Linked DNA regions of Homo sapiens: region 2 is linked to region 1. Evidence: fine-mapped expression QTL. A gene starts in region 1. The other region holds a variant in brackets. All regions are shown on one strand. Distances are from middle to middle.

Region 1 (2,914 bases):
TAATACTTTGGGAAATCACACATACACACACCAAAAAACCAAAACCAAACCAAAGATGCAGCAAAAAAATTAACGGAGATGACGTTCTTAGATTGATCCAAAGTTGCCTCCGTGTAATTTCACAAGCGTTTCCAAAATATTCTAGGCAAGAGGCAATTTCCAAAAGATTCTAGCAAGAGTTACTGAAGGTCAATATTCTTATGCAAACATTTTGTTTTTTTTTTTTGAGGGGTTGTGGGGGAAATGAGGAAGTGAAGGAAATCCTATTATTTAATAATTACATGGAGGAAAAACGACTGGTAAATTTGAAAGGTAGTTTTTAGATAAAAAACCAAAATACCTTAAGAAATGTCCTTAAATTTCCATATGTATGTCTGGCACCCTTAACTAGGGGGCCATGGAGAGAAGGAAGGTAGACGGTTTAATGTTCACAATAATTAACCCTTTTGTAATGAATTTAATCTCATCTTAACTCCCTGAGTTAAAAAAATAAAACAAACTGAGTCAGGTGCGATGGCTCGCAACTGTAATCCTAGCAGTTAGGGGAGGCAGAGGCGGGAGGACAGCTTGAACTCAGGAGTTCAAGACCAGCCTGGCCAACACAGTGAGACTGTCTCTACAAAAAATACAAATTAACCGGGCTCGTGCCTGTAATCCCAGTTTACGTAATCCCAGATTACAGGCTCGTGCCTGTAATCCCAGCTAGGGTAGGCCGAGGTGGGAGGATCTTTGAACCCGGGAGTTGGAGGCTGCAGTGAGCTACGATCGTGCCACTGCACTCCAACCTGGGCGACAGAGCGAGACTCCATCTCAAAAAACAAACAAAACAACAAAACTGAGCTAAAGACAAATAGGATTGACCTGGGGAGTGGGGTCTGAGGCAATGGGATGAGGCTGTCTAACAGGGCACCTCACAGGGAGATGAGAACCGCTTGGCCACACAGAGGCAAAATGCGGCCGAGGTCAGCACAGCCCTCTCGGGGTTAAGAACGGGGCGCCTGAGGGGTATCCCGGTCCCCGACTAGAACCTCCTACGCGCTGGCAGCCAGAAACAGGATGAAGGAGACTGGCGCGGACTGCGGGCTCTGCGGGCGGGGCGGGGCGGGGCGGGGCGGGGCGGGGCGGGGCGGGGGCCAGCCCTCTGGGGCATGCCGGGGGGCGGAGTCTGCGCTGAGTGAAGAGGTGCCAGAATCCGCGAAGAGGGTCGACGAATGCGCTGCCGCGGAGGGTAGGGCGCTGAGGGTCTGAACCCTGATGCAAGGAGGGGCTGGAGGTCGCGGGCACGTTTCTTTTGGGTTGGGCGGCGGAGGGGCAGCTCTAGGGCCTGGAGCAGGGCTTTACCAGAACAGTCCACCCCTCCCGCCCGGTTAACCTGAGCGTCTCTTTCGCCTTGGCTTGGTTCCGGTCGCTACTGTGGGTGCCGCCGCCGCAGCCTTTGGGCTGCTCGACCATACCCCGTCTTAGAAGGTCAGGTGTGCAAAACTTGGACTCGACTTCATCCAAGAGCTCGTCCAGGTCCTCCGCCATCTTGAATCGCCTGGCCTTTTCCCCTCCAATCGCCAAGGCTCCGGTGGTTTCCAGGAGTAACGAGGGGACCTGGCGGGCTCCTGCCCCGTTAGGCGTCCCCGCGCATGCGCACCGCTTCCCGTGGCAACCCGGCGCCCACGAGGGCTCGCGGCAGAGAACGCGGTGGGTTCGTGAGGGGCGGGCGTATGCAGGGACAGAGTTCGGAGCTGTCTCTGCAGTGTGTCTGTGTGACTCGCGATGCTTTGCGTTTCTTCCTTTCAGCATGTCTGGCGTGGTTCCTCCCGTCTCCCCCTCCCGGGCCCACGTTGTAACCACAAGCACGCATTCTCGCCCCTTCATTCTCTCCTCTCCCGTTTGGGTCCCTGTTGTGTTTCAGCCGTTTGTAAATTCCTGAAATCTGTGGAAGGTTTGAGCAGAACGCTCTAAAACACAAAAAGTAAGTGTTGACGGCAAAAAGCTGACATTCCCGTAGTCGGCAGGATTCGAACCTGCGCGGGGAGACCCCAATGGATTTCTAGTCCATCGCCTTAACCACTCGGCCACGACTACTGGCTGTGTGAATTTTTGCGGTGAGAGTGCATGTAGACTCTGCATAAGCGTCTGCTGCAGCAATAGGCACGTTTTGATGTGGAGGAAACCATTACTGAGCTGTTCTGTTAAGAGCATATTTGAATGTTACCTCGCTCATCATTTTACAGTTTGTAAAAGTCTTAGAACGTATCCCGTCCAACTCTTTGTTGGAAAAAACGGAAATTCTAATTAAATCCGAGAGAGAGAGAGAGAGAGACAGAGAGAGAGATGCGTGCTCAAAACTATTGCACACCCACTTGCTTGCACAATGTTGGAGCCATTTCCAGGAGAGAACCAGGAACCGGGTAGGGGCCAACCAGCTTCCCGACTTCCTTGTGGGGCTGCCAGTTCCACTCCTTCGCCTTTCTCTTTGACAAACGGCTCCCAGGACTATCTTTTCACCCATTATACATTAAAAAGCTATTACCCAGCGATTTAAATTCACTCTGCAGGGTCAGACAGTCCCACCGTGCCATAAAAGCACTACTTTGAAAAGTGTAAAGCGTGATACAAGTGTAAGGTATTGTAAATGGCATTCTTAATAAATACTGTGCATAGTTTAACCTGTGTTTTGGGTATTTCTAAAGTGGGGTAGCAAAGAGGTTGGCACCCTTGGGAACTCTGGAGATAGTTTGATCCAGATGATTTGTTTGTTCAAAGTATCTTTTAAGGTCCCTGAAGAGCAACATGTAGTGGTGTGCTGGAGCCAATGGGACATGCTCACTCCTACCCAGTGATAAATTTTCAAGGATTTTGGGAGCTAGTTGTTAAATGCAATTATTATTAAATATTAAATTATGCAAACTTGCAATTACAT
Region 2 (2,914 bases), 22 kb after region 1:
CATGGATCTCAACCCTTAGCAAAGCTTCCAGGCTCAACCCTCAGCTGGCTCTTTGGGCCTTGGACTTGGCTAGTCTGCATTCCCTCAACCTCCCCATCCACTACCTGCAATGCAGTAAAGTTTCCAAGTCTTACGCTTCATCTCCTGGTGATTCTGGCTCCTGCTTTCCCCTGTGACAGTTAGTCAGACACACTGACATTTAGCTCACCACTATGCTAACCATTTTTGTTCTGCCCAATCCTCTCTGGCCTAAGCCACTGTGAAATAGACTGGTTAGATCTTGTTGGGTCCTCACAGGGCCTTTTGTCACATTTGAGCCTCTCTTGAGTTCTGACACCAATAAGTCATAAATGAAACAGAGAGAAATGATTATTTTCTAGAACAAAGATAAAAAAACTGGAGCATTACAAAAAGCCACTTCTTTACTTAGATTTCTTTATATTCAGATGCTGTTTCCTTTTTTATTTCCTTCTCTCTTTGTTACTCTGAATGAGGTGCTCAAGTAAGTGTTTGTCCTATTTAAATAGAGAACCTCATCACCATGCATGTTCAGTGTTGGCTTTGCCTGTAGAAGTGTAGATTTGTCCAGAATTTCTGCAGAAATACTGGGTACATGCAGGTTCACCAGCAACTCTCACCCCCTGAAATCAAGTCCAGTCTAGCTCTTCATAAGTACATAAATCATTTTAGGGAAGGTGAAAGTTCATCTGGTCCAATATTTCTCCTCTGTTTTGCTTTATCTTAATCCTGTTTCGCTATTTTTTTCACCACGCCCTTAATCTTTGCTGTCTCTAAAAGAAGCATAACTGCCTCTTCTTAACTTTCATAAACTCTGTTAGAAGCACTTTCTTCAATAACTTGTTCCATATGTTGCATACATGAGCTCCATCAAGATCCCCCTTCCCCCCACTGCTTCCTCAATTTTGCATGGCATCCATCAGTGTTTGAATCATTACAAGTAAAGGGGGAAAATACCCTCCAATGCCATCCCAATGGGACCTTTCTCTTTGGCATGTTCAGCATGTCCCATCATTTAGAAGGCTCTGTGTGGTTTTCTGGAAGTTTTTCTAACCCAGTGAGAAACAGCTGGTTTACCTTCACTGTCCTCTCCTTCTTTCCTTTGAAAGCTCCATATGGCTTGGGTGATGCCGCCTTGCCCTACTCAGGACAGCTTCCTGGGATGAAGGACAGCAAACACCTCTATCTTCCTTAGAAGGGTCCAACAAGAACTCTGAGTAGACCGAGGACACCTCTCTGGGTTTCCAGTCAATTTCCTCTGTAAACAAGCGCTCAGATTTTGGCCATTCTTAACTGTAGCTGATGATTTAAAAATATATATTTTTTCATTTTCTAAATAACTCCACTTATCTCCATTCTAGTTCTTTTTGTGATCTTTGCCCATATTTGACTGTTTCGTGAGACACATACTTAATAGCCAGGTCTCTGCTCCCAGACTAATTATTTCATTTCTCACTAATAATAATAATAATTACTTTTACTTTTCAGGTGGCTATATCTTTTCCTTGTGATGAGAGTGTTCCTTTCTGTGCACTAGCAGGCTTTATCATCCTTCACCTCTTTCTACATCTCTGAAACAGGAAAGGTAGCCACTCCCTTCTCCCCTCACTTGCTTTGGGGCCTTAGTGCCACAGGTGCTA[G/C]GAGCTCTCAGATGGTTTATAGGGCCTGGCAGGGCTGCAGTAATGGGGAATCACACTTCATTATTGCTGTTTTCTAAGTCCACCCTTTTTTAAATGGCTACCAGGACACTGTTTTAGAGTGTTTTCCATGCCTCCCAGGCACAGAACCCCTGTGGATGTGGCCAGCCTATAGAGGCTGTGCAAAGGCTCATAAGAAAAAAACTGATACCTGGTGAATATTTTGTTACAGCACTAATTTCTTCCTTTTTTTCCCTCTTCCCAATCTTATAAATATGTCACTGGAGAAATGTCTATTCAAGTTCTTAGCCCAGTTTTTTTTTCAAAAGAACCAATATTTTTAAAATAAGTGTACTACACAAACCAATCTATAAATTCAATGCAATTATCAAATTACCAATGTGTTTTTTTCACAGAATTAGAAAAAAACAGTGCTAGAATTTATATAAAACCAAGTATGTGTGTAATAACCAAAGCAATTCTAAGCAAAAAGAACAAATCAGGTTACTTTAAAAAAAAAATTCAGTTGTAGAGGGTTCTGAGGTATTCTGGAGTTTAACCCTGTATCAGATGTATGGTTTGCAAGTATTCTCTCTCATTCCATAGGTTGCCTTTTCACTCTCTTACTTGTCTCCTTTGCTGTTCAGAAGCTTTTTAGTTTGATGTAATTGACTTATTTTTGTTTTCATTGCCTGTGCTTTTGGTGCCATATTCATGAAATCATTGACTTCTTCCTTATGTTTTCTTCTAGGAGTTTTTATAATTTCAGGTCATAAATTTAAGTCTCTGACCCACATTGAGTTGATTTTTGTGTATGATAGAGGATAATGGTCTAATCTCTAAAGGAGACACACAAATGGCCAAGTATATTAAAAATGCTCAATGTCACTAATCATCAGGGTAGTGCAAACCAAAACCACAATGAAATATTATCTCATACCTGTTAGGGTAGCTATTATCAAAAAACAAAACAAAAGACTACATCTGTTGGTGAGGATGTGGACAAATTGGAAATCTTGTACACTGTAGGTGGGAATGCAAAATGGTGTAGCTGCTAAGAGAAAGTGTGGAGGTTCCTCAAAAACTAAAAACTAGAACTACCATATGATCCAGCAATCCCACTTCTGGGTGTTTATCCAAAACAGTTGAAATGAGAATCTTGAAGAGATAGTAGCACTCCAGTGTTTATTGCAGCAAAAAAGGTGGAAACAAACTTAGTGTCCATTGAGAGACGGATGAAGAAAATGTATATATATACA

Which allele goes with the higher level. Positions count from the first base shown, and alleles are read on the strand shown. Sizes are in standard deviations (SD) of each study's normalised expression.
With allele C in place of G in region 2, the expression in breast of the gene that starts at base 1,539 in region 1 is lower (small effect, 0.36 SD a copy in GTEx).

Evidence for each region.
Region 2: its variant is fine-mapped to the expression of CFAP418 in breast (GTEx, PIP 0.99).

Annotation. Positions count from the first base shown.
Region 1 is chr8:95,267,663-95,270,576 of GRCh38, forward strand. CFAP418 (cilia and flagella associated protein 418) reads right to left here and starts at 1,539. Exons shown (of 6, transcript NM_177965.4): 1 at 1,373-1,539. The coding sequence starts at 1,527. CFAP418-AS1 (CFAP418 antisense RNA 1) reads left to right here and starts at 1,174. Exons shown (of 4, transcript NR_038209.1): 1 at 1,174-1,228. TRS-AGA2-5 (tRNA-Ser (anticodon AGA) 2-5) reads right to left here and starts at 2,076; the gene lies at 1,995-2,076. RefSeq lists enhancers at 1,131-1,570, 1,525-2,164, 2,201-2,280.
Region 2 is chr8:95,289,203-95,292,116 of GRCh38, forward strand. All of the region lies in intron 1 of CFAP418-AS1 (CFAP418 antisense RNA 1), which reads left to right. Among named protein-coding and RNA genes, the nearest start is that of TRS-AGA2-5, 21 kb to the left of the region's middle. The variant G/C (reference allele first, on the strand shown) is at 1,659.